5 separate regions of the Homo sapiens genome follow, and all the other regions are linked to region 3. The links come from fine-mapping of genetic effects on gene expression. A gene starts in region 3. Each other region holds a variant in brackets. All regions are shown on one strand. Distances are between the middles of the regions. Region 1 overlaps LOC102723739 (a long non-coding RNA gene). Region 2 has its middle 120 kb from the start of ATL2. Region 3 holds the start of CYP1B1 (cytochrome P450 family 1 subfamily B member 1). Region 4 overlaps CYP1B1-AS1 (CYP1B1 antisense RNA 1). Region 5 overlaps LOC102723739 (a long non-coding RNA gene).

What was found. PIP is the estimated chance that this variant, and not a neighbour inherited with it, causes the effect. A credible set is the group of variants that fine-mapping cannot tell apart.
Region 1: its variant is the best candidate, but not a certain one, in a credible set for the expression of CYP1B1 in sigmoid colon (GTEx, PIP 0.66).
Region 2: its variant is the best candidate, but not a certain one, in a credible set for the expression of CYP1B1 in whole blood (INTERVAL, PIP 0.67).
Region 4: its variant is the best candidate, but not a certain one, in a credible set for the expression of CYP1B1 in subcutaneous fat (TwinsUK, PIP 0.57).
Region 5: its variant is the best candidate, but not a certain one, in a credible set for the expression of CYP1B1 in uterus (GTEx, PIP 0.63).

What each region holds. Positions count from the first base shown.
Region 1 is chr2:38,198,235-38,203,338 of GRCh38, forward strand. It overlaps LOC102723739 (a long non-coding RNA gene), which reads right to left. Exons shown (of 4, transcript XR_007086289.1): 2 at 4,268-4,455; 3 at 1-1,850. Among named protein-coding and RNA genes, the nearest start is that of CYP1B1-AS1, 70 kb to the left of the region's middle. The variant G/A (reference allele first, on the strand shown) is at 2,866.
Region 2 is chr2:38,256,839-38,261,942 of GRCh38, forward strand. No RefSeq gene overlaps it. Among named protein-coding and RNA genes, the nearest start is that of ATL2, 120 kb to the right of the region's middle. The variant G/A (reference allele first, on the strand shown) is at 3,173.
Region 3 is chr2:38,074,054-38,079,138 of GRCh38, forward strand. CYP1B1 (cytochrome P450 family 1 subfamily B member 1) reads right to left here and starts at 2,098. Exons shown (of 3, transcript NM_000104.4): 1 at 1,727-2,098; 2 at 293-1,336. The coding sequence starts at 1,335. RefSeq lists a promoter at 2,079-3,454, cis regulatory regions at 2,093-2,100, 3,021-3,050, silencers at 2,094-2,183, 3,094-3,213 and an enhancer at 2,921-3,119.
Region 4 is chr2:38,161,263-38,166,366 of GRCh38, forward strand. All of the region lies in intron 2 of CYP1B1-AS1 (CYP1B1 antisense RNA 1), which reads left to right. It also overlaps a transcript of LOC107985871 not described here. Among named protein-coding and RNA genes, the nearest start is that of CYP1B1-AS1, 33 kb to the left of the region's middle. The variant G/T (reference allele first, on the strand shown) is at 3,020.
Region 5 is chr2:38,215,742-38,220,845 of GRCh38, forward strand. All of the region lies in intron 1 of LOC102723739 (a long non-coding RNA gene), which reads right to left. Among named protein-coding and RNA genes, the nearest start is that of CYP1B1-AS1, 87 kb to the left of the region's middle. The variant T/C (reference allele first, on the strand shown) is at 3,134.

The DNA.
Region 1 (5,104 bases), 120 kb after region 3:
CAAATACTTTCAGTCGAGGTCATGTTCATCCACAGCACAGCCTTGACCTTAGCAAGAGCAGCAGGCAGATTGAGTGGATTCAATTCCAAGATTGTCTCCTATTTTGTCTCTTTAGGCTTAAATGCTTTAGCACCATTTCAAGGGAGAAAATTCACATCACAGAGGACAAAAAAAGCTGTCATTCTTTCTAAACACTAAACTTATTGTCATCTTAAGGTCTTGACTGTTGGTGTTCCTTCTGCTTATTTACATTCACATGGCTTCTTCCTTGTCCTTGGTCAAGTCTCAACTCAAATATGATTCCCTCCAAAAAGCCTTTCCTTGTTACCCCAATTATAGCAGTTTATAATCAGCCCCAATCTTAACTCATCTGTAGTGAATTAAATAACATCTCCCAAAAATTCACCTCCACCAAAGCCTCAGAATGTGACCTGATTTGGAAATGCCATCTTTGCAGACATGATTAAGGTAAGGATTGGAATAAGATAATCCTGCATTAGGGTGGGCCCCAGATCCAATGAGACTGTCCTTAAAGTCCTCCACAGCCTAACTCCAGGCTACCTCGCCAGTGTGGATTGTCTACACTGACTGCCTGCTCCTGGAAAACTGATCTTCCTACCAACCAAACAGCTGGCTTCAGCTTCTCGCCATGCAAGTTCCTGCCACATGCCACTTCTCTACCTAGGAAGTTCTCCCTCCTTTCACCTGAACCTGTCCAAATGTTACTCTTCCTTCAAAATAGGGCTCCAATCTCAAAATTTCTGCTCCCATGGGGTCTTTCCTGATGCCGTGCTGCCGGGCACAATCTCAGGAGACTCCAGCACCACTGTTTACACCACCCTTGTGTGTGTGTGTGTGTGTGTGTGTGTGTGTAAGTGGACCTCCAATGGACTATGTGCTCCTACAGAACAGGAGCTGTATTTTGAAGTTGTTTTGTTTGTCTACTTGTTTTGGTTTTGTTGTTAGTGTTCTTTTCTTTCCAGGCCTTGAATGCTCTATGGACTATGTGACAATATGTAGAATAAAAGACAGATTGCTTGGTTACATGAACAGATTAATAGCATGTTACTTCGCTCCACCCTAAAGCAAGTCCTCTCAGCCACACCCCACTGCAATGCAGTCTACATGTGACTTCTTGGCCATAATTACCAAATGGATTCAGAGGCAGAGAAGAGGGAAAATGGCAAGTCCCTTTTCTCAGGCTGCTGAGATAATTTGCTTAGAGGACTTAAGAGGTAGCTCTTTAGGATTCCCAGAAATAATTGGGGAAATATTTGAGGGTCCCACACAATCAGGGAAGATAGTAAAAAAATACTCACCACTTTACTTTGAGGTCACTGTTGCTGCCATCATCACCCCAGAGTTGTTTCCTACTCTTGGTTATCTGGAGTCACACTGAGCTCAAAACAGATGGCCCTGAAACTGCTCTCTGAAGCAGTGAGCACACACCGTCTAAACACACAAATATGCGCATGCACGTGCACACACACACACACACACACACACACTTGTATGTCACCACTGAACTAGTAACCCCAAGCAAGCTGACCAAGTGCTCTTCTCCTGAAGTTTCAGAGATTTCATTGCAGAAACACAATTTACTTTTATGAGCAGCACTTCTGTCCCAAGGCCTCAGACTAAGCTGGTAAGTACTGATTCCAGGACAAAATGTGACCCACATCCCGAAGTGTCCTGCATTCCTCTTTCTGCCCCTTATAGGTTCTTTACCTGCAAACTCTCTCCCTCTTGTCCAAAACATTTTACCTGCTCTGTCACCTTTGCATGATCACAGGTCCTTCGCGTTCCACAATCAGTTATTTCCGTACCAGGTTTGTTTTATCACTTTGAACCTTAAAACACAGGGAACAAAATTTTACCCACTGTCAAACTGAATCTGTCCATTGTGAGATGCTACACCACTGAATTTTGCTGTGCATCCGTCCAATTGGAAAAGGAATGAATGTGAAAGTTTCATTTAAAACACTCCTTCATGAAACTCTCTGTGCATCAAATAACTGAAAGCCCAAACCACTGATCAGTTAGTAAAGCTGTGAAGCCCTCTCAATTGTCAGAAGCAATTTGAAATTGAACTGAAAAATATCTCACGGTCTCTTAGAAACAGACACGAATTGTGGTTTGTAACCCAATGTGGAAATAGTTACGGAGAAAGTGACAACCTCTTGTGAGGTGTGTGCGCTCTTCCTCCAAGTTCTTTGTTCTAAGGTCAGAGGGCTGATCACCTCACTGCTGCCCTACATAGTCCCCTCAGCACCAGAAAATGCTCACTTACCACCAAATTTACTTCCAAACTGTAGTTTATCAGAATATAATTTTATTTTCTGAAAGAAGTGCTTCAACTTTGTGTATTGGCACAAGATAACTATAAACAATACCAAAGAAAACGGTCCCCTATAATCTGGCCATTTATGGACACAGCACCAGAGGGAAAAAAACTTTAAACATAAATTAAGAAAGTTCTCTGTAAGAGCTCTTGTTGAATTATAGCTGACAACAGTACACACAGCACAGTCACGCCACTGAATTCTTTCCAGCTCCAGCTCCATAATTCACCTTCTCCCACATGTCCTCTATTCTTGAACTTAGAAGACTTTTCTCAATAAGGGTCACTAAGGGGATCCCAGTTGGGAATAGAAGAACAAAAAAGTTTAGTAACTATTCCAAGAGTCATAACATCGTAGGCAATAAATGCTGCATTTAAAGACTACAGATTTAAGATTGTGAGCAGCTTCTACCAGACACTGCATTACCCTGGTAAAGTCACCTGCCTTCTTTGAGCTTCAGTTTTCTCATCTGGCAGTTGTTCAATGGGTTTAGTCATTTGCAATCATTTTTATTACCTTCTAA[G/A]GTCCCCTTTAGGTACTGTGATGGAGAGGTAGACAGACAGAAAGATGATAGATAGATAGATAGATAGATAGATAGATAGATAGATAGATAGATAGATAGATGATAGATAGGTGGGAAAGCCTTAAAAACTCAAAAAAGTAAGGAAGGATGATCCCAAGAAATAAGAGGAACCAGAGCTCTTCTCCCTGGGTCTGAGAGAAGCTGGCCCAAGCCATCCTTCCCTGAGTCCTATCCTGCTCCTGCTTGGACTTCCCAGGACAGAATCCTCCCTGCTATGTGTGAGGCAGCCCCAGGCCCTTTGTACTGCTCCAGAGGTCTGGGGAGCAGTGTTCGAATGGGAAGAAAAGCATCCAAAAAAGAAAAACCAAAGAGCCAATGCCATAAATATGTAAATGCCCTTGAACTCTACTGAGAATTCCTCTGTGCCCCAATAGTTTCCTCCCCTCCATGTGGGTTATATTCTATTTTCCCAGGCATGGAGTAAGGGAGAAGAATAAAATTGGAGCTGGGTGGTGGGGGAGTAGCCTGGAAAAGACACTTATGAATGCAAAGAGGCCATAGATTTCATTACCAGGTGCATAGTATCATCAGCTCCCGGTCCAATGCTTACTCATAGCACAAGCTGATTAAATGGTTGTGGAGGAAGGGAGGGAAGGAAGGAAAAAAAGAAGGAGAGAAGGAAGGAAGGAAAATTGGTTCTTATGCTTTCTACTGGAAACTTTTTATCTATTCAAGGAAGAATTAATTTTTGATGTTTACTGGCTATATATTTTGCACTCTCCACCTTGCCACCACCACATATTTATACTGTGACCAACCTAGCTGAAATGAACTTATATTTTAAATGAGTCATTTTGCAGAGCAAGTAATAAATCAGCTATCAGGAGTAAGGAGCTCTCAGCAGGCCATACTGCTCCATTGCCAGGAGGGATTATTTTAGTAGTATCACACTAGGATTTCTGAATTTATGCCCTTAATTTATGAGACATTCATTGCAGGGGCTTTCCCAAGTGTTATTTTCATAAACAGCAGATTAATATAGGGGCTTTTTCTTGCATTTCTTTGGAAAAATCTTGCCCCCATGTAGAATATTCAAGCTCTGCTACCTATAAATAAGCTAATGTCTTTCCTCTGGGCTGTTGTCCCTTAGCCTTCAACATCTTCTAGTCTGAAGCAAAAATCATGCTTCATTTTGTTTTGCTATCTTTCTAATACAGTAAGAGCTTCAGGTCAAAGAACTGAAGAGAATGTGAGAGCTTGACCCTCTGTTATGTTTTTCGTTATTTGTAGATTTTCCTTATGCACTTGCCCTTCTGTGGAATCTTTCCTCTTCATTCCCTTATCCCTATTAGGATTCTACCAATTTATTGTTCTAACCTTGAAGAAACAGCTTTTTATTTACCTTCAGCTGTAGGTGGCCCACCAGGTGTCAACAACTGTAGAGTTCCATCAAGAGTCATCATTTTACAGTTACAAGTCGGAGGGGCCTTCACAGATCCGTCAGGCTCAACACTGCCTCCTTAGTGAGCCTGTGAACCACCCAAGACGGCTGGTCATCAGTGTCATCCTCTTCCTTTTCCGGACAACTATCTTTAAAAGAAAAAAAAAGAGTGTCTTTGAATGTATCCATTTTATCCCCAAATAATCTTGTTTAATAAATTCCTTATTAGGCCAAATCCAATGTGCTGAAATATCTGCCAAGCATGTCATTCTACACAAAAGGGATTTGCAAATAGCCAGTAGTTGGCGTGAAGAAAGGACATGTGAAAGCGCTGGGTGTGGAATTTCCCATCCTCGGCCGGAGGTCTACTACAGCTCGCTGTTTGCAGATCTGGGCTGAGCTATGCATCACATTGTTCATGAAAGAAAAAGCAACTGCTCTCCCCAGTGCCCCTTCCCCGCTCCACATGGCTGCGATCAGCAGCCCCAAGACCCTAATTGCCACAGCCTATTAGAAATAATGAGACTTACATGGCAGAAGCCAAGGGTAAAAGCGACATCTCGCAACACGAAAGGTTAATATCAACATATACAGCTAGTGAGTGCAAAGGGCACCTCAGTTGGTGGCTCATTATGGCGGGCTGACCCATAGGGAAAGTGTCATTCTGCAGAGAGGCCTTTCTCAGGATGTGGCAGCAAAAGTTACAAAAGATAAGGACTTGCCTGTGAAACGCACTCAACTAATGAGAGCTGAAGATTGTTTGAAATATCCCGATGACCTCACAGATGGGGGATGCTG
Region 2 (5,104 bases), 180 kb after region 3:
TGCTTTTTACTTTTTAGAAGTTTTGCCTTTTTCAAATAAGCATGCCTTTACTTTTTATACTTCAAATCCTTAAGATAATATAGTACTATAAATGAGACTATTTTTAAAAATCTATACCTCAATTTGTAGAAGGATAAAACTCATTTTATGGAAGGTAAAAGGTAAGAGTCTGTTCTAAGAGTACACAGGCTAATAGTGTCTCCTAGCCTTTGAAATCCTTTTTTGTTTTGCTCAGATTTCTCATGTATACCCTCTACAATCAACAGTGTCAGTTTTCCTTCATGTTCCTTCCAACAGAGCCCTAATTTCAATTATAGGGTCTGTTTTTGTTTTTGTTTTAAATTCTAGGCTCTGTGCTTGTTGGGGATGATAGATGTTTGACAGCTTTCTCGCTTTCTTCTAATGTAATTGGTCCATATAGATATGTTATCATCCCTTGAAACTTATTTGGTAAATTATATTATCCCTATTTATATATTAGCAACTTTTAATTCAATACATCTCTCCCTGATCTTTTTGTCTCTTTGCTTTGGGTCCTTGGTTTAATTACTTTTAAAATTAATTCTAAAATATTTGTCTTTTTTTTTTTTTTTTTTTTTTTTTTGACAAGGTCTCACTCTGTGGCCCAGGCTGGATTGCAGTAGCATGATCGTGGCTGACTGCAACCTTCATCTCCCAGGCTCAAGAGATCCGCCAGGTGCGGTGGCTCACGCCTGTAATCCCAGCACTTTGGGAGGCTGAGGCCAGTAGATCACCTGAGGTCAGGAGTTTGAGACCAGCCTGGCCAACATGGCAAAACCCTGTCTCTACTAAAAATACAAAAATTAGCCAGGCGTGGTGGCATGCCTGTAGCCCCAGCTACTCGGGAGGCTGAGGCAGGAGAATCACTTGAACCCAGGAGGCGGAGGTTGCGGTGAGCTGAGATTGTGCCACTGCACTCCAGCCTGGGCCACAGACTGAGACTCTGCCTTAAAAAAAAAAAAAAAAAAAAAGAGAGAGAGAGAGAGAGAGACAGAGAGAGAGAGAGAGAGAGAGATCCTCCCACCACAGCCTCCGGAGTAGCTGGGACTACAGGCATGCACCTCCATGCCCAGCTAATTTTTTTGTACTTTTAATACAGACAGAGTTTCGCCATGTTGCCCAGGTAGCTCTTGAACTCCTGGGCTTAAATGATCCACCCACCTTGGCCTCCCAAAGTGCTGGGATTACGAGCCACTGTGCCCAGTCATATTTTTTTTTTAAATAGACTTTATTTTTTAGAGCAGTTTTAGGTCCACAACAAAATTGAGCAGAAAATACAGTATTCATATATACTCCCTGACTGCATGTGCATATAGCCCCCACCCCACTATCAACATCCCCCACAAGAGGGATACACGTGTTATAAATGATGAGCCTACAATGACAAATCAATATCACCCAAAGCCATAGTTTACATTAGGCTTCACTTTTGGAGTTGTACATTCTATGGATTTGGACAGATATATGGCATGTATCTACCATTATACTATCATAGAGAGTAGTTTCACTGCCCTAAAAATCCTCTGTGCCCCGCCATTTCAGCCCTCCCTCCCCCAAACCCCTGACCACCACAGATCTTACTACTGTCTCCATAGTTTTGTCTTGTCTAGAATGTCATATAGTTGGTATCATATGAAGCCTTTTCAGATCGGCTTCTTTCACTTAGTAATACGCATTTAAGGTTCCTCCGTGTCTTTCCATGACTTGATCGTTCATTTCTTTTTAGCACTAATTAATATTCCATTGTCTAAATGTACCACAGTTTATTTATCCATTCACCTGCTGAAGCATATCTTGGTTGCTTCCATGTTTTACAGTTATAAATAAAGCTGCTCTAAACATTTGTGTGCAAGTTTTTGTTCATTTGGGTAAATACCAAGGAACATGATTGCTGGATCGTATGGTAAGGGTATGTTTAGTTTTGTAAGAAACTACCAAACTGCTTTGCAAAGTGGCTCTACCGTTTTGCATTCCCACCAGCAATGAATGAGAGTTCCTATTGCTCCATATCCTTGCCAGTATTTGGTGTTGGCAGTGTTTTGGATTTGGATTTTGGCCATTTTAACAGGTAAGTGGTATGGCCTTTTTTTTTTTTTTTTTTCTTTTTGAGATGGAGTATCACTCTGTTGCCCAAGCTGGAGTGCAGTGGCACAATCTTGGTTTACTGCAAGCTCCACCTCCCAGGTTCAAGCGCTTCTCCTGCCTCAGTCTCCCACGTAGCTGGGATTATAGGTGCCTACTACCATGCCTGGCTAATTTTTTGTATTTTTAGTAGAGATGGAGTTTCACCATGTTGGTCAGGTTGGTCTGGAGCTCCTGTCCTCAAGCAATCCATCCACCTCAGCCTCCCGAAGTGCTGGGATTACAGGCATGTGCCACCATGCCCGGCCTCATTCTTTTTTAATGTCATAGTTTTATGACATGGGCTGCAACATTCTTCTAGAGTCTGCACTTCATTTGATATTTGTTTTTCCTACTACTTTCCTTCTTTCTTCTTGTAACATCTTTGTATATTAAAGATCCTGTGATGGCTCCTTTTTTATTACTTTTTACAGAAACAGTTGATTTTTTTTCCTGTATCAGCTTTTTGCTTTCTTACTCATGTGATTTTCCTGTATTAGCCAACCAATTACGGTGAAAATGGTGACACAGAAGGACAGGGGGAAATGGGGCAACTCATAGTTCCTTTTCCCTTCAGTTGTTCTTTTTCCTTTCCTTTTCTTTCAAAAAAGAGAGAGGGTCTTGCTCTGTTGCCCAGGATGGAGTGCAGTGTTGCAATCATGGCTCTCAGTCTTGAACTCCTGAGATCAAGCGATCCTCCCAGCTCAGCCTCCAGGGTAGCTAAGACTACAGGCCTGCACCACCACGCCAAGCTAATTTTTAATTTTTTTGTGGAGATAGGGTCTCACTATGTTGCCCAGGGTTGTCTCAAATTCCTGGCCTCAAGTGATCCTCCCCTCTCAGCCTCCCAAAGCACTGGGATTACAGGTGTGAGCCTGTGCACCCAGCTCAGTTTTTCTTTACTCATCAGTAAGTCAAAGGTACAGACTGTTGGTAGAAAGTCCTCATACAAAAAAATGAAATGAAAACAATCTGAGCTCATTTTGTATAGCATTTCCATTGTTCTGGCAAACACAAAATATATATGAAT[G/A]TACAAACTGAGAAATATAAATTGTATAATTTTAGTGATTCTGCGTAAAATTTAAATGTTCTTCTATTTACATTTAAAATTGCCATTTTATGCTAATATCATTAAATTTTAATTTTTCTTTTCTTAGAACAACAATAAATTTTAAAAACTTCATGACAAGTCGAGAGGGAAAGTACAGAGGAAAGGAAGGAATTTTATGTTTTAGTAATTTTCACATCATTTTTCCTTGATTTTCGAAGGAGGGCCTTGCATTTTCAGGCCCTGCAAATTATGCAGCCAACCTTGCATAGGAGGTTAGTGCTGGAAAGACCTTAGAGATTATCTAGCTCAATCCATTCATCAGACACAAAAGATGGACTGAGAAAGATGAAATGATATTTTGCTTAGGAAATTAAAAGGGGAGAGTAGGATGGGAAAAACTTCCTCCATCTTCAGATCTTCAGGAGTGAACGGTGGTTTCACTGAAAGACACTAAGTCCACGGGGAGCCGCACCTCTCAGATCTGTCTCTTTGCAGGTTGTCTAACGCCCACTCCCTCCCGTGTTGATCTGGGCTTCTCTCACATTAGAGGGCAGTAGAGCCAAGTACCCAGATCCTTTGCAGCTGCTGCATATTTTGGCCCCACGTCCACCATCCTGGGTTTCCCCCTGTGGGTGTCCTTCCCACACATTCAACATCCAAGCAAGGTCCTACACCACCAAGAGAGTCCCGCCAGCCCTGGGCACCTACGGGGACTTCCAGTGGACACGTATTCTATTCTTGGGAACTTTCGGTTTCTAAGAAGTCCACAAAGCCTTTAAAAGTTTGGAAAAAGAGTTGAAAAGAATCGTAAGAGGTAGGATTTAGAGGAGAACGGGGAGTCCCGATGCAACGCCCTGAGTCTTCCTCCCTTAGACAACTTTTTCCTTCCTGTGAAGACAGTATGCAAGGAAAAAAAGAGAGTGCTAGAACTGAATTGGGAACAATGTAATGTCTTTTTCTATTGCTCTGGCAAAATCCTTGCTGAGAAACTGAGAAGTGTTGATTCTGAAAGCTTTTTTAGAAATTCTTTCCAAGGCAACTTAATTCAACAACACATTTAACAAGAGTCTTTTGTCAGACATCCTGTCCTCTGATATTTTAGAAAACACCACACACACACACACACACACACACGTGCACATGCATGTATGCACACACACTTTATTTTCACTTTTCTTCCCATCCAGCCCAAGGCATGCCCAGAGCACAGCAAAGCAACGCTTGGAGCTTTGAAAGGACACCATGTCCTTTCAAAACATGATTTTGAATTCCATCCTGCCTTCTCTCCACCTACATTAAAACTCTTGAAGGACATTTTCTTCTAATACTGTCTTTTTTGGGACTTCTTCATGTTGCCTGCAAATTATCTCTTTTCGAATCACAGCGTTTTGGGCACAGACCATCACTGCCCACGGAGTGATGAAGCAGACCGGGGCTGTGGTTACAGAGTCAGAAAGAAGGGTCTCCTGCCCCAGGGACCACCACACCCTCTCCCAGCATTCAAGCTGCCCAAGCTTTCTCAGAAAACATCTTTCCAGGCCATCACCAGCAGCGGGTTTTACCAAAAACGTCCCACTCTCTGGCTTCCTTGCTGATCTGTGGGCCTTGCTGGATCCACCCGCTCACGCACGGCCCTCCCCACAGACCTCTGCCTCGGCTGGATTCTTCCCTTCCACTGGCTCTTATGTGCTGGACTTCTGGATTCTCATTTGCTTCCTGAATTTTGTCGCCAGGACTCAGAATTCAGTCCTCCTGTCCAGTTCTGCTCTTGCGAGAGCCAACTCACATGCAAGCCCTCAAATCCTTCCTCATTGCTCTGAGGCTGGTTCTGGAGCACTTCGGCAGGGCCTGTATTCTAGCATAGTATCATAGTGCTTGCCTCCCCCACTAAAATGAAAATCAGGGACAATG
Region 3 (5,085 bases):
TTCCGGGGGGTGGAGGGGTCTTTGCAAATGTGTTCTCACTCGCAAGCAGGGGAGGGGACGATAGAGACAAGATAGGAGACCGGAGGGGTCGGGGCACCGCTGGGTGGGGCGCGTGCGCGTGTCGCAGCCCTCACTGTGAGTCCCTTTACCGACGCGATCTTGGTTTTGAGGGGTGGGGACCTGGAGCGAAACCCCAAACCCGGGGCCCTGCTTGCAAACTCAGCATATTCTGTCTCTACTCCGCCTTTTTCAGAGGAGAAAAGACCTGGCCCACGCCTCCCAGAGGCTTTACCTGGTGAAGAGGAGGAGCAGCCACTGCAGCGCGGTGGACAGGGTGTCCTGGCTGGCGCCGAAGATGTCAGTGATAGTGGCCGGTACGTTCTCCAAATCCAGCCGCGCGCCACCACCGTGCGAGTCCCCGGCCGCCTTCTTTTCCGCAGAGAGGATAAAGGCGTCCATCATGTCGCGGGGGGCGGCCCCGGGCCGAAGGCTTTCGCAGTGCCTCAAGAACTTGTCCAGGATGAAGTTGCTGAAGTTGCGGTTGAGCTGCTCGAATTCGCGGAAAACGGTGCGCACCGGGTTGGGGAAGTACTGCAGCCAGGGCATCACGTCCACCAGGCTGCCCGCGCCCACCGTGCGCCCGAACTCTTCGTTGTGGCTGAGCAGCTCACGGAACTCGGGGTCGTCGTGGCTGTAGCGGCAGCCGAAACACACGGCACTCATGACGTTGGCCACGGCCACGACGGTCAGCGGCCTCGGGTCGAGGAAGGCGCCGTCCGCGCTGCCGCGCACCAGCAGCGCCACCAGCTCGCGCGCCTCGCTCAGCACGTGGCCCTCGAGGACTTGGCGGCTGCGCGGCTGGCGCGTGAAGAAGTTGCGCATCATGCTGTGGGCTGCGCGCCGCTGCACCTTCCAGTGCTCCGAGTAGTGGCCGAAAGCCATGCTGCGGCCGCCGGACACCACACGGAAGGAGGCGAAGGCCGGCCGGTCGGCGAAGGCCGAGCCCTGCTGCACCAGGGCCTGGTGGATGGCGCGCTCGCCATTCAGCACCACTATGGGGCAGCTGCCCAGGCGGATCTGGAAAACGTCGCCGTAGCGCCGCGCCAGGCGAGCGAACGAGAGGTGAGCCGCCTGGCCCACCGCCGCCGCGTTTCCGATCAGTGGCCACGCAAACGGGCCCGGGGGCGCGGACCGGAGCTGCCGCCTCCGTTGCCTCAGCAGCCGCTGGCCCACATGCACAGTGGCCAGCACCGACAGGAGTAGCAGGAGCGTGGTCTGCTGGATGGACAGCGGGTTTAGCGGCCAAGGGTCGTTCGGGCTGAGGCTGGTGCCCATGCTGGGGACAGAGAGGAGAAGGCGTGACACTCAGGGGTGCAGAGACAGGAGCGGGCGCCCCACGCCCCTACCCCAGCCTCTGGGGACTGAGTGCCGTTGGGTGGAGAGGTCGGAGCTGACTCTCTGGAGAAATGGCCGAAGACGCCCCTTCCCATCCCCAACCCACTCTCCCTTGGAGAAGAGAAGGGGCGTGTTTCCACCTCGCTGTAACCCAGCGCCAAACCCTTCCCCTCCCCGCAAGGCGCGTAACGGTTCCTGCAATCTGGGGACAACGCTGCGGGCATCGAGGCGGTGGCGCTTGATTTCCTTTAAAGTACCTACCACGCCACCCGCTACCTGTAATAATCCATCTGAAGAGGTCGCCGGGCAGCGCCTCGGCAGACAGACTGACCTGCGGGGAGGTGCGGTTTCCAGTGGCGCGGGACAGCCGGCTCCGAGAAGGAACTGGGACCTTTGCCTAGGGCAAGACGTCAACAGGAACCCGCAGGCCCGGCCTGGACACCTGCTGCCCTCACTGGAAGCTTTAACTCCCACTCGAGTCTCTTGGCGTCGTCAGTGCCAGGAGCGCTTGGATTGGGATGGGGACGGAGAAGGGTGCCTCGCTCGCCGAGCCCCGCTGCCCTTGGGGACCTGGCAAAGTCGAGGTTTCCTCACAGCGTTGAGATTGAGACTGGGGGTCGGTGAGTGGCGTCAATTCCCATGCCCTTGCGGCTCTCACAACTGGAGTCGCAGAAGCGCTCGCTCCCACTCCCACTCCAGAGTCAAAGCGCGCCATCCCGCTCCTCCGGGTTTTAAGGACTGGGTAGAAGGAGGGCAGCGCGACCTGGCAGGGCGGGGCCTGCGGGGGGCGGGGCGCGCCGCACACCAGGCCGCTTTGACCCGGACTCCCGTCCAGGCGCACCGGCCGGCCTCGGAGCTCTACCAGCAGGCTTTCATGGGAGCGGAGGTGCCCACGTTTCCATTGTGCGGTAACCGCGCTTCATCACAGCCACCTCCAATCGAGGCCGCACGGTGTCCCCAGAACCACGCTCGGTACAACCTGCCCCGGCCGCTGCGCTCGACTTGGGAGCGCGCCCCGCCCCGAGCGCACGACCTCCCTTCCCTCTCCGCGACTTGAGCTTGCTTCCCGGAAAGCCAGTGTAGTGGCAGCGGTTTGCCTCACAGCGCCCCTGGTTGGTTGTTTAAATTTTATCTTAGGTTCTCGCAAACAAATTGCCACCTCAGTGGAGGCTCTTTGGCATGCTAAATTTTTTCCAGTTCTTGCGGCGAGATCAGGAATCCCTAAAAGTAGCCGCTCCCCCGCCCCGGGGCCCCGACAGTGCTTGGGCACACAAAGGCTCCTGGGGCGCAGCTGGCCCTGAGATTTCCCGCGTAGAGGCCACTCCAGGTGGCGCCGCCCGCTGGTGGGCGCGGGGCCGCCCAGGCTGCGATGGAAGCCGTTGGCGCAGGGCGGGGAGCCAAGCTGGGGCGACTGGGGGGGCCTGGGGGAGCTAGCGGGGCGGGACCCGAGCGGGGCGGAGAGTGGCAGGAGGAGGCGAATCTCCGCGCTCCGGCGAACTTTATCGGGTTGAAGTTTCTGCTGTCGCCTCCCCTTTGCGTGCGGAGCTGGGCTTTGCGTGCGCCGCTTCTGGAAAGTCGGCTCCAGTCATATCCCTGGGCGCTGCCTGCGGCCGCTCCTCCCGCGCTTCTCACGGCACCTGACACGCGGAGGCGGCGGCCGAGGGTGGGGTGCCGGCCACCACCACCCTTGGCGTGGGGTGCCGGCCGCCACCACCCTCGGCTGCGCACGCACAGTCGCGCCTGCCAGGCCAGCGAGGCGGACGCTTGGGCCACCACCCGCAGGCCGAGCCCGGGCGCGTATCGCCACCTCGCTGCGCACCGGCGGCTCTGTGGTCTTCCTGGGCGCGCTTGCGGTCGCGAAGGGGGCCCTCCCTTTATAAGGGAAGCCGGAGGCGCTTGGGCGGGGGTGGCTTCCCCCGCCTGGCGCGCCCTTTCCTACATGCTGATGCATAGGATTTTCAAGACAGCTAAGAGAACAAGGACTTCACGAGGCGGGGGGAAGGGCGAACTCGAGGGAAGAGGTGGGATGTATCTGGTTAACCAGGTAGGAATTGTACTGGCTTCATCAAAGGATAAATATAAAAGTGATAGGTTCACCAGGGACAACCCTGCACTTTGAGCTCCACTCGCGCTGCGAATCTCGTGCTATTATTGACCTGTTTACAGATGAATAAACTAGGGTTCAGAGAGGTTGCGTGACTTAACCCAGGTCGCGCAGCCATCAAGAAGTGGAGCCAGGGCTTGAAGCCACCAAGTCCCACTCCAGATCCTTCACATAAGTTTACACGGAAGAAAATTGCAGATAAGAGGCCCAAATGCCTTCTTTCCTGCCTCCCTTAAAAAAAAAAATGCACGTGGGGCTAGGCGCAGTGGCTCACGCCTGTAATCCCAGCACTTTGGGAGGCTTAAGCGGGCGGATCACTTGAGGTCAGGAGTTCGAGACCAGCCTGGCCAACATGGCGAAACCCCATCTACTAAAAATACAAAAGTTAGCCGGACGTGGTGGTGCACACCTGTAATCCCAGCTACTCGGGGATCAGGGGGGAAGGCAGCAGAATTGGTTGAACGTGGGAGGCAGAGGTTGCAGTGAGCAGAGATTGCACCACTGCACTACAGCCTGGGCAGCAGAGTTTAAGTGAGACTCTGTCTCAAAAAAAAAAAAAAAAAAAAAATCAGCTGGAAGAACTTTTTAATTATTGTTTTTGTTTTCATAATTGAGAATTCTGAGAATAGCAGAGAAGAAATAGTATGCTAACCCTTTGCAATTAAATTGCTTATGAGGGAGGCCAGGGGAGTGTGCCTCATAGCTGACCCTGGAATGACTGATTACATTGTAAAGAAACACAAAGGAGTGTCTGAAAAGAATCTGACTTCTTGAGAGATTGAAACCAGCAATCAATTTGCTGACCTGATAAAGAAATGTCTTTTCGTGATGGCTTTTTTTATTTTTATTTTTATTTATTTATTTTTTTTGAGATGGAGTCTCACTCTGTCACCTGGGCTGCAGTGCAATGGCGTGATCTCGGCTCACTGCAACCTCCGCCTGCCAGGTTCTCCTGGCTCAGCCTCCCAAGTAGCTGGGATTACAGGTGCGCACCACCACACCCGGCTAATTTTTGTATTTTTCTAGTAGAGATGGGGTTTCACCATGCTGGCCAGGCTGGTCTCAAACTCCTGACCTCAGGTGATCCACCAGCCTGGGCCTCCCAAAGTGCTGGGATTACAGGCATGAGCCACCGTGCCCGGCCTGTGATGCCTTTTATTCGGTATCTTTTGAAGAGTTTTCTGGAAATGATTTCACACACCATGATGGGGAACTTAGATAGTGATGGAGTTTTAGTTTTTGAGCAGTTGCATTGGTTTAATAATAAGCGTTGGTTTCCCAGAGGTGAGTTGGCCTACACAGCCTTTGAAATGAGTTTCATAGCAACCTTCCCATGTCCAGCTTTAGCAAGATCCTTGCCTAATAATTCAAGACTCTGGTGCATGCATCAATCTCTCATAGACTTTAATTTAGTAGACGGGAATTATCTATGAGCTAATGCCAATCCTGAGCTGTTGACATTCCTGAAAGCCTTTATCACAATACCTCTGCCAGAATGAGAGCAGATGGAAGTTGCCTTTAAGTAAATTCCTATTTTTAAAAAGTATAAAACGAGGTTGTTCCTAAGACCGCCTGTCCAACTCCTC
Region 4 (5,104 bases), 87 kb after region 3:
CTTACTTGCTCTAAGGCCACACATCTTAAACCGAGATACATCTACTCTGGGAGGTTTGCAGCTGGAGTTTTCAGCTGAACTTTTAAAAACTTTGTTTAAAATAAGTTGCTTTACATTGGAACTTAATATCCTCAGTGGATTGAGATCGACATTCTGGGAATTGAAATTGTGTCTGGAGAAGAGAAAGGAGCAATGTTGCATTTTGCAGTAGAGGCAGATGGGCTAGGCAGGGATGGGGGAAGTCTTCTGAAAGGAAAGCAGTGAACAGTTGGGGAGGGGTTCAGAAATGGAGCTAGGGGACCAACCACAGAAAGGGTGGCCTACTTTGGGATTTTTCTAGCTGCAGCATAAATCTAGTACATCTTTTTATATTGAAACTAAATACAGATATGAAATAGAGCTTCATCTGGCAATGGCCTCATGAGTGTTGGGCAAAGCTGCCTTCTTCTGAGGCTGTTTCCTTCAGGCACGGGCTTGGGCTCCTCTTCTCATTCCCTCAAGCCCCACTCTCTCAACTCAGGTGCCTTTGTCAGCTTGACATAAGATCCTTTAATAAACCTAATGGCAAACATCAACGGGAAGCAAAAAATCCAGATCTCAACTATGGCATGAATAGTTGCAAAAGATCTAACTAAAGCCACCCAGCCACAGTGTGGCTTCCTTTCTGCACAAGTATTCTTGCTTCCTAAAAAAGGACCAACCTGGCTGGGAACGCTGGCTCACGCCTGTAATACCAGCACTTTGGGAGCCTGACGTGGGTGAATCACGAGGTATGGAGTTCAAGACCAGCCTGGTCAAGATGTGAAAACCCGTCTCTACTAAAACTACAAAAATGAGCCAGGTATGGTGGCGGGCACCCGTAATCTCAGCTACTCGGGAGGCTGAGGCAGGGAATTGCTTGAACCCGGGAGGCGGAGCTTGCAGTGAGCCGAGATCGCGCCACTGCACTCCAACCTGGGAGACACAGCGAGACTCCGTCTCAAAAAAAAAAAAAAAAAAAAAAAAAGGACCATCCTATACCCCATTCTCAGCACGTCATTCAGGTACTGGACAGACCTTAGTCTTAAAACCAGCATGCCTGGAGTGGGCTCTTACCCTCTATGGGCCTCAGCTATGGGGGGAAGAAAAGAAAAAAAAAAAAAAAAGCGTTAAACTAGGGACTCACCAAGGGCCCTTCCAGCTCTAGCTCTCTTCAATTCTACATACAGCATTAAAGAATTTCAGGATATATCTCCCTGGCTTGTTGTTAGTCTCTTTTTACTTTCTCCAACTTTCCCTAAAGCAGGGAATAGCAAAGAATAGCAAAGAAACTTGGTGCTGATCTGCAGAGAGAGCCTCTCCTCAATCAGAGATTCTGAGCCAAGGGGTTTGTGTGACCTTTGGAACTCAACCACAAAGCCCTGGAAGAACTGGTTACCACCAGGACCCTAGAGAACAATCCCAATATAAGCCACACTTTCTCTTGTTGTTCTCCTATCTCCATTTTTGAACCTCTCCCCAACCTTTTACTGCCTTGCCATCTAAGTCTACTGTAAAAATACAACATTTCTCCTTTCTCCTCTCTGTCCCAGGCAAAATTTCTATTCCTAGGATGTTGATCTCAATCTGCTAAGAATATTATGTTCTAATGTAAAGCAACTCTTTTTAAACACAGAGCTCAACTCAAAACAATCTTCAGTGATCTACCAAAAAGGAAGATATTTTGAATAAGAGACTTCCTTCAGATGAAATCAGTATAATTAATTCAAATCCCATCCATCCTCTCTTTATATAATCAAACTTCACAGCAGGACAGAGATAATATGGGTTAGCCAAGAAGAGAAAAGTTTTCAGTCCTAGAAGAAAGAAGGTCTCTGCTATCACCTCATAATAGCTTTGGGGCTACTCCCTCCAAGATCATAGAGCTCGTCAGCATAAATCATAGAGGAGCTGTTTGCATGCAGCAGAGGGACCCAGAGTGCCACCTGGCATGGTCCAACCTAAGAACCTAGGTGAGAAGCATGGGAAGCCAGGGGTTGCCATGAGAATAAAGGTAAAGAGACACAGTTTGTCTAATTCTTGGGTTTGCTTGGGGTCAGCTCTGCGTGTCGAAATACCCCCTTCCACCAATTTTCTAGGCTTGGCTTGACTCCACTTACACTCCCGTAGATTTCAGCTATCATCCCTGCTTCCCTCTTGGGAGTTTTTTTTTTCCTCTTGGGAGTGTTATTTAGGCTGGGGAGAACTTAATGCAGTCATCATGTTGATTCATTTTCACAAATACTTATTAAATGTCTGCTTTTGCACAGCTCTGTGGAAGGGCCAGAGTGGTATATAATGCATGATCTCTGACTTAAAGGAACTTGAAAGTAACCTGTGCCCTAACTTTGTTACCGACAGGGAATGATTTTGGAGGTTCTGGGAGAAGCAATCTGTTAGGTTGGTGCAAATGCAATTGCTGTTTTTGTCATTAAAAGTAATGGCAAAAACTGCAATTACATTTGCACAAACCTGACACTCCTGACACCTGAGAGCCAACTGCCAATCATTCCAGGATACACTGTGTGCACTTTGCTTTCTCACTGCAATCTTCTTTAAGCATTCATCTATCTCTCAATTTCCATCTAATTGAAACTGTGGCAGCAGCATTAGCAGCTGGTGGTGGTGGAAGACCTCCTGATTCCAGAAATTTCCCAGGGTGGCCCCCTACAGTTTGGATCTGCTGAGGAGCATGTGGAAATTCAAAGGCATGCTCTCTTATGGAGAACAGTTTGTTGGCAAAACATTGCCCGTTTGCTGCACATCTGTAAACTGAAGTAGACCTGTCTTTCTCGACACATTAAAAACTGGTCAAAAGCTTCACTGGCTAATTAGGTTAGTGATATGGTTTAGCTGTGTCCCCACCCAAATTTCATCTTGAACTGTAGCCCCCATAATCCCCACATGTCATGGGAGGGACCCAGTGGGAGGTAACTGAATCACAGTGGCAGGTTTTTCCCGTGCTGTTGCCATGACAGTGAATAAGTCTCACCAGATCTGA[G/T]GGCTTTATAAAGGGCAGTTCCTCTGCATATGCCCTCTTGCCTATCGCCATGTAAGACATGGCTTTGCTCCTCCTTTGCCTTCTGCCATGATTATGAGGCCTCCCCAGCCATGTCGAAATGTGAATCTGTTAAACTTCTTTTTCTTTATAAATCACCCAGTCTCGGGTATTTCTTCACAGCCGTAGGAAAATGGACTAATACAATTAGTTGCAAAATTAGGTTAATCACCTTCTCATTGAATGTAACTTCATCACATATATATAAATGATATATAGTGTACTTCATATAAAAATGGTTATATATACATACACACATATATATATATATATATATATATATAATGGTTTGTGTACCTTCCCTGAGAATGTGGGCAACTGGAGAACTCTGGCCATGGGTGCAAAAGGGCCTCCCTTGCTGTTCCATGATGGTGCTCCCTCAGGCCCCTCTTCATCTCTCCTCTCCAGCCCCTCACCCTCTGCCTGGGCTCAGGCCCTCATCTTCTTTTTCTTAGATTACCTATTCCAACAGCCTCCAAGCCTGTCTGCTGCAAATCCAGTCTGTTTACAACTTACATCTGACCATGTTTCTCCCCTGCCTCAGAGCTCCCTGAGACTCCCCATTCCCCAGAAGAGAACATCTGAGAAGCCTTACAAAGTGCTGTCTGCCTCTTCAATATCACTTCTGCCAACCTGCTGCCTTGCAGATGGGCAAGAAGTCCCTCACACACCCCAAGCTGTTGCTCAGCTTTGTGGCTTTGCAACTGCTGTCACCTTTTGCCCTCTGCCTATGCTTCATTTGGTTAACCCTACTCATCCGTGAAGGCTCGGCCAGGGGACTTCCCTGGCTGATTGCTCCCAAAATATGCTGTGATGGATAGCACCATCAGTGTGCTTCCATGAGGTATCGTAACTAACTGTGCAATGGTTCTCTCCTCACCGAGGACTGTGAGATCCTAGAGAACAGGGAATGGGTATTAGTCATCACATCCCCAACATTAAGGACAGTGATTTTGCCCCCCAGGGGATATCTGGCCATGTCTGGAGACTTTTTGGTTGTCATAACTAGATGGGGGTACTACTAATACCAACTAAGTGGAGGCCAGGGATGCTGTTCAACAGCCTCCAATGCACAGGACAGCCTGCATAACCAAAAGTTATCTGGCCCCAAACCGTCAATAGAAATCTTAATCTAGGACAAAGACTACAAACTTAACGCTGCTTAATGAATGATAAAGTGAATATATTTTACTGAATGAAACTCTGCCCTTAAGTAAGGTCCACGTGACAATTGTTGGATCATGGGAAAGAATTCAAGTAAATGTACTCCTTCTTTAGAACAAGTAATGGCATAAGCCTAGTCTTTTATTGTGGATTTAAGTTTGGCTCCAGTTAACAAGGTATTTCACGTTATCAACTGAGCAACTAGGAATAATATACCGAAGGCTATTCTCTACATAGAGTAAGAATTTCTAGACTAAAATAAAGTCAGAATGTCAGAAATAAAACAGGTGTTAAAAATCATCCAACTTGAGCTACTGATTTTATAAATGAACACTCCAGGTCCTGCATGATAAAGTGACTCCCCAAGGTCACCTAGCTAGGAGTGACAGGGCCTGGGGCCAGTGAAAAGAGAGCTTGTGTTATGACTTCACCAGAAATGAATATGAGACTACTGGGTCCATCTCTGGGATCCTAACAGAGATTAGGTCAGGGCTGGGGGTTTGGGAGAGGAGAAGAGAGAAATAGAGATAGCTGGGAGGTAGGCTTTGTTACATGTCTTGGTTTCTTTCCTGAACAGTCGGACCTTTCCTCACATCTCATGGCTACTGAATTTGAGGACTGCCTAGTGCCAAAGTCTGTACCTTGATACCTTAGATCACACACAATTCAAACTTTTCCACCTTCTGGGGTCTCTCACTGGCAACACTATTAAAATTTTGGGCAAGACGATTCTTGTTTGCAGGACTGACTCTTTGGAATACCTGGCCTTTGCTCACTAAATATCTGTGGCATCTCCAGGCATGATTATTAGAAAACAAGCGAGGATATTTTCAAATGCCACCTAGGAGGGTGGTACTGCCTCAT
Region 5 (5,104 bases), 140 kb after region 3:
TAAAATGCTTTCATCACGCCAGAAAGAAACCCCATACTCATTGGCAGTCACTCCCCATTTCTCCCCAGCCCACACACAGCCCCAGGCAACCACCAATCTACCTTTTATCTGCACAGATTTGCTTATTCTAGATATTTTGTATAAATGGAATCATGTAATACATAATTCTTTGTAACAAATTTTTTAAATTTAGCATAATATTTTCAAGATTTATCACTATTTTATTTCCTTTTATTGCAAAATAATATTCCATTGCAGGGATACACCCCACTTTGTTTATCCATCTACCAGTCATGAACATTTGGGTTGTTTCCATATTTTGGCTGTGATGAATAATGCTGCTATGAATCTTCATGTACAAGGGTGTTTTTTTGTTTGTGTTTGTGTTTGTTTTTGTGGACATGTGTTCTTATTTATCTTGGGTGCAATACCTGGAAGTAGAACTGCTGAGTCATGCAGTAGCTCTGGGTTTAACCTTTTGAGGATTTACTAGGCTGTTTTCCAAAACTGTTGCACCATTTCCCATTCCCATCAGCAATGTATGAGGGTTCTAATTTCTCCACATCTTGATCAATATTTGCTATTACCCATCTTTTTGACCTGCCTTTTTGTACTCACCATGCTACTGAGTGCAAAGTAGTATCTCCTTGTGATTTTGATTTGCATTTTCCTGATGGCTAGTGATGTTCAGCATCTTTTCATGTGTTCATAATGGGTCTTTACTTTTTAAGATAATGGCAGGAAATTTAACAGAGAAAAGTATCAACATAGATAGAACTCCACAAGCACCAATCGTTTTCTATGTGTCAAATGTACTTCTCACTTGAAGACTGGAAAATATTTTTGCTTAAATTATGACAACTATCTGTCTCCTCCAGTATCCACCCCTCCTTCCCAAATCACCTAACGCCATTACTATGTTTCAAATTGGGCCAAACTCTAATGCAAGAAAGATGTTTTCTTCATTAATCTGAAAAACAAATGAGCTCCAAGACCTAGTCAGTAACTCACTTTCTCAACAAATGCCAACATACCAGATCATCCAAATGGCACAAGACTGCCACTCCTCACAACCCTGGAGGGCAGGATTCACATGGCAGTCTGTGTGCCTAGCATCCATGGGAGGCAGGCCCCCCACAACACACCTTTATTGGACTGCATCCCTGTGAGTAGTTCTTTGGTCAATCATGGGAGTGGTTTTGCACTGGCCCAATGGGCATCTACATGGTGGCCAGGTAGGGTGTAAGGGCAGAGTTAGACTGGCTTCATGGATCTGTTCTGTTTACCTAACCATTGATTTAACAGGCTTGCCTAGAGGAGTGGCCACCCCAACATCTACAGGAAGTACTTCCTCAGGCACAACCAGTTACTGATGACAGCTCTGTACAGTGGTTAGGAGCAAGAGCTGGCAATGACTCTTTGATCAAGGAGTCTTGATCAAAGCCCTTCCCCATCTTCTGCAAGCTCCATGATCTTACAAAGATTCCTTTATGCTTCTGGATCTTAGTTTCCTCCTCTGTGAAACAGTGTGATTAATAATACATCGCTCAAAGAGTTGTTGTGAAAATTAAGGCAACAATGTATATAAAACATTTAGCAGAGTGCTTAGTACATAGTAGGTCCACAGCTGGTGTTTTTATTATTTTTATTACCAGCAGTCCACTATTCACAAGGATTTCTGGCTTCCAAGTCTTCATATTAACTGTTCCCTTTGTCCAGAATGCTGTTTCATACACTTTTCCCAGTTAATTCCTACTAATCCTCTAACCTGGCTTACAGGGACCCCTCCTGGAACCCTCCCTTCCCTCTACTCCCAAGAGTAGGTGCCCCACATATGAGCTCACAAGCTCCAGATGGTCCATATCACCCTGTCTCCAATCGCCTGTGTGCTTGTCTGCACCAGCCAGCAGACACTGGGCTCCCGCAGTTGGTGGGAACTCCATCAATATTTGTCCTCGTTTTGCCGGTCCCTGAATCTGAGTAGCAGCCTCTTTGCCATCCTCAATGCCTCCTTCAAAGGAAAAGAATCTAATATTTTCTGAGTGTTCACCGTGTGCCAGTAATTTCCCTATGTTAGTTCATTAATTTGCCTAATAGAAGATTGGGTGAGGTAGGCATTTCCCTGTTTTTAGGATAAGGAATCAGTGGCTCAGGGGGTTAATTAACGGAATTAACTAACCACAGTTTGCCTAAGGTCTCACAGGCACAGGGCTGAGGCTGGCACCCAGAGTCAATGTTTTTGCAACACATCCCCAGAGTTTTGCCCTGTCTTATGATTCAGTCCCAATTAAGCTACAGGGATCCACAGGCTCACTCAACTACTTTCTCTCTCTCTCTCTTTCTTTCTTTCTTTCTTTCCTTCCTTCCTTCCTTTATTTTTCTTTCTTTCCTTCTTTCTTTCCTTCTTCCTTTCTTGCTCTCTTGCTTTCTCTTTTCTTTCTTTCTGTCTCTTTCTTTTTTATTTGACTTATAAGCTACAAACATTTATTTCTCATAGTCTGGAAGCTGGACGTCTGAGATCAGGGTGCCAGCAAAGTCGTGTCCTGGTGAGGGTGCTCCTCCAGGTCGCAGACTGCTACCTTCTCCCTGTGCCCTCATAGGGTGAAGGCACCTCAGCTACTTCTTGTTATCGGCCGCCTGAAAGAATACATTTTTTCCCCCGTATGCTTTATTATAAAAACACCCAATACTTTACTAAAATGTGCTCCTTCTGTCTAGCTGGTTTGGGATGTTTAGGAGGAGTCAGGGACAAATCCTCCCTGGGGGCCTTTCCCAGGGAGCGCTGAGGTCTGGTAGTCAGAGACGGGTCCTCTGGGGAATCAGAGATGAAGATGACAGAGGAAAGGTGGAGGTTTGGCAGGGAACAGCAGACAATGGCTGTGGTTGTGCCTCTGGCTGATGGTTTCCTGAGAGGCTTTGCAGTTTGAGCTGTTACACATCTGCTCTGGGTCAGTGTCCCCAGACCTTCTCTGTGCTGCCCCAGCCCTGCCAGCAGGCAGGACTATTCACGAGGAATCACATGGGATTGTAAACCCCTGGGGCTTGGAGGAACCTCTCCTCCTCATGGGGAGACTGTCATAAAGGTGGCTGCTTCCAGGGAAAGGCTGTGGCTGTACACAAGGACTCATTTTTC[T/C]GTCAAAATGAAGAACTCCAGAAGCGCACATGTATTTGGCAGCGCATCTACTATTCGCCAGCATCTGTTTTGTGCAACATGATTGTTAATGAACTGAAAAGGATCCTGCTGCTGCTGCTGCTGTTATTTTGAGGACACAGGAAGCAAAATCAGGAATTCATTTGTTCCTTAGTTTGTTCAACAAATCTGTACTGAGCACCTCCTCTTTGCAAAGTAAAGAAGAGAAAAAAATGAGATGAGGTTATGTTCTGGGTCCTCCAGACAAGTGTTGGGGGAAAGGCTGTATTTGTGAGGAACTGTCGTATCTGTGCATCTCATGCACATTGAGCCCTCAACAAAGGAAGGGACCCAGCTACAGCAAATCGGTCTGCAACGAGGAGGTGAAGAGTAGAATCTCCGCAGGCCAGCAAGCAACAAAAAGCACTCCAGGTGGAGGGAAAAGCATTAACAAACGTGGAGAAGGGAAAGCAGAACATATGAGAGAATTGCAAGTGATTTCTTTTTGACTGAAACAAAATTATATGAAGGAAGGAAATAATTCTGGCAATGCAATTGGAGCAGGATCCTAAGGGCCTTGAATGTCACACTAAGAAGTTTGCAAGCCACCAAATAGCTTAAGTAAATGATAGAGTGTCCTGACTGGGACTATATTTCAGAAAGATAAATTTGCAAACAGCATACAAGATGGACAATGGTCAAGGTGGGAGAGAATAAAACCAAATATAACAGAATCTGATAAGAGGCTTGCATCAATCAGCATAGACTTAATTATATTATAGTAACAGACAACCCTCAAATCATAGCAGCTGAAACAATAAGCGTTTATTTCTTGCTCACGCTATATGTCACTTGTGAGTTGGCTAGAGGCTCTGCTCTTCATACCCTCTCTCCCAAATCCAAAGTGTCAAAGAAGCTAGGATTGCAAATACTGCCAGATGCTTTGACAGAAGGGAAGTTACCTCATACCGTATACAAAAATGAACTCAAAATGGATCAAAGATCTAAATTTAAGAGACTAAATTATAAAACTACTAGAAAAAAACATAGGGGTAAATCTTCATGACCTTGGATTTAGCAATGGATTTTTAGACATGACATCAAAAGTACAAGCAATCAAAGAAAAAATAAATAAATGTTAGACCTCAACAAAATTGAACACTTTTGTGCTTCAAAGAACACCATCAAGAAAGTGAATAGACAACCCAAGGAATAGGAGAAAATATTGACAAATCATATCTGATAAAGGACTTGTACCTAGAATACATAAAGAACTCTTACAAGTCAATAATAAAAAGCCAAATAACCCAATTTGAAAATAGACAAAAAAACTGAACAAGTATTTCTCCATAGAAGATACACAAATGGCCAATAAGCACATGAAAAGATGTCCAACGTCATTAGTCATTAGGTAAACACATGCCAAAACCATAATGATATAGCCACTTCACAACCAATAACAGGGCTGTAGTTTTAAAAAGTCAAATAATAACAAGTGTTGGTGAGGATGTGAAAGTATTGAAACCTTCATACACTGCTGGTGGAAATATAAAATGGCACCATCACTTTGGAAAACAGTCTAACAGCTCATCAAAAATGTAATCACAGACTTTCCATTTGGTCTAGCAAATCCACTCCTAGTTATATACCCGAGAGAAATGAAAACAGGACAAGGCATGGTGGCTCGTGCATGTAATCCAAGCATTTCAGGAGGCCAAGGCAGGCAGATCACTTGAGGTCAGGAGTTTGAGACCAGCCTAGCCAATATGGCAAAACGCCATCTCTACTAAAATACAAAAATTAACCAGGCATGGTGTGTGCCTGTAATCCCAGCTACTCAGGAGACTAAGGCAAGAGAATCGCTTGAACCCGGGAGGTGGAGGTTGTGGTGAGCCAAGATTGCGCCACTGCACTCCAGCTTGAGCAACAGAGTGAGACTCCGTCTCAAAAAAAAAAAAAAAAAAAAAAAGGAAT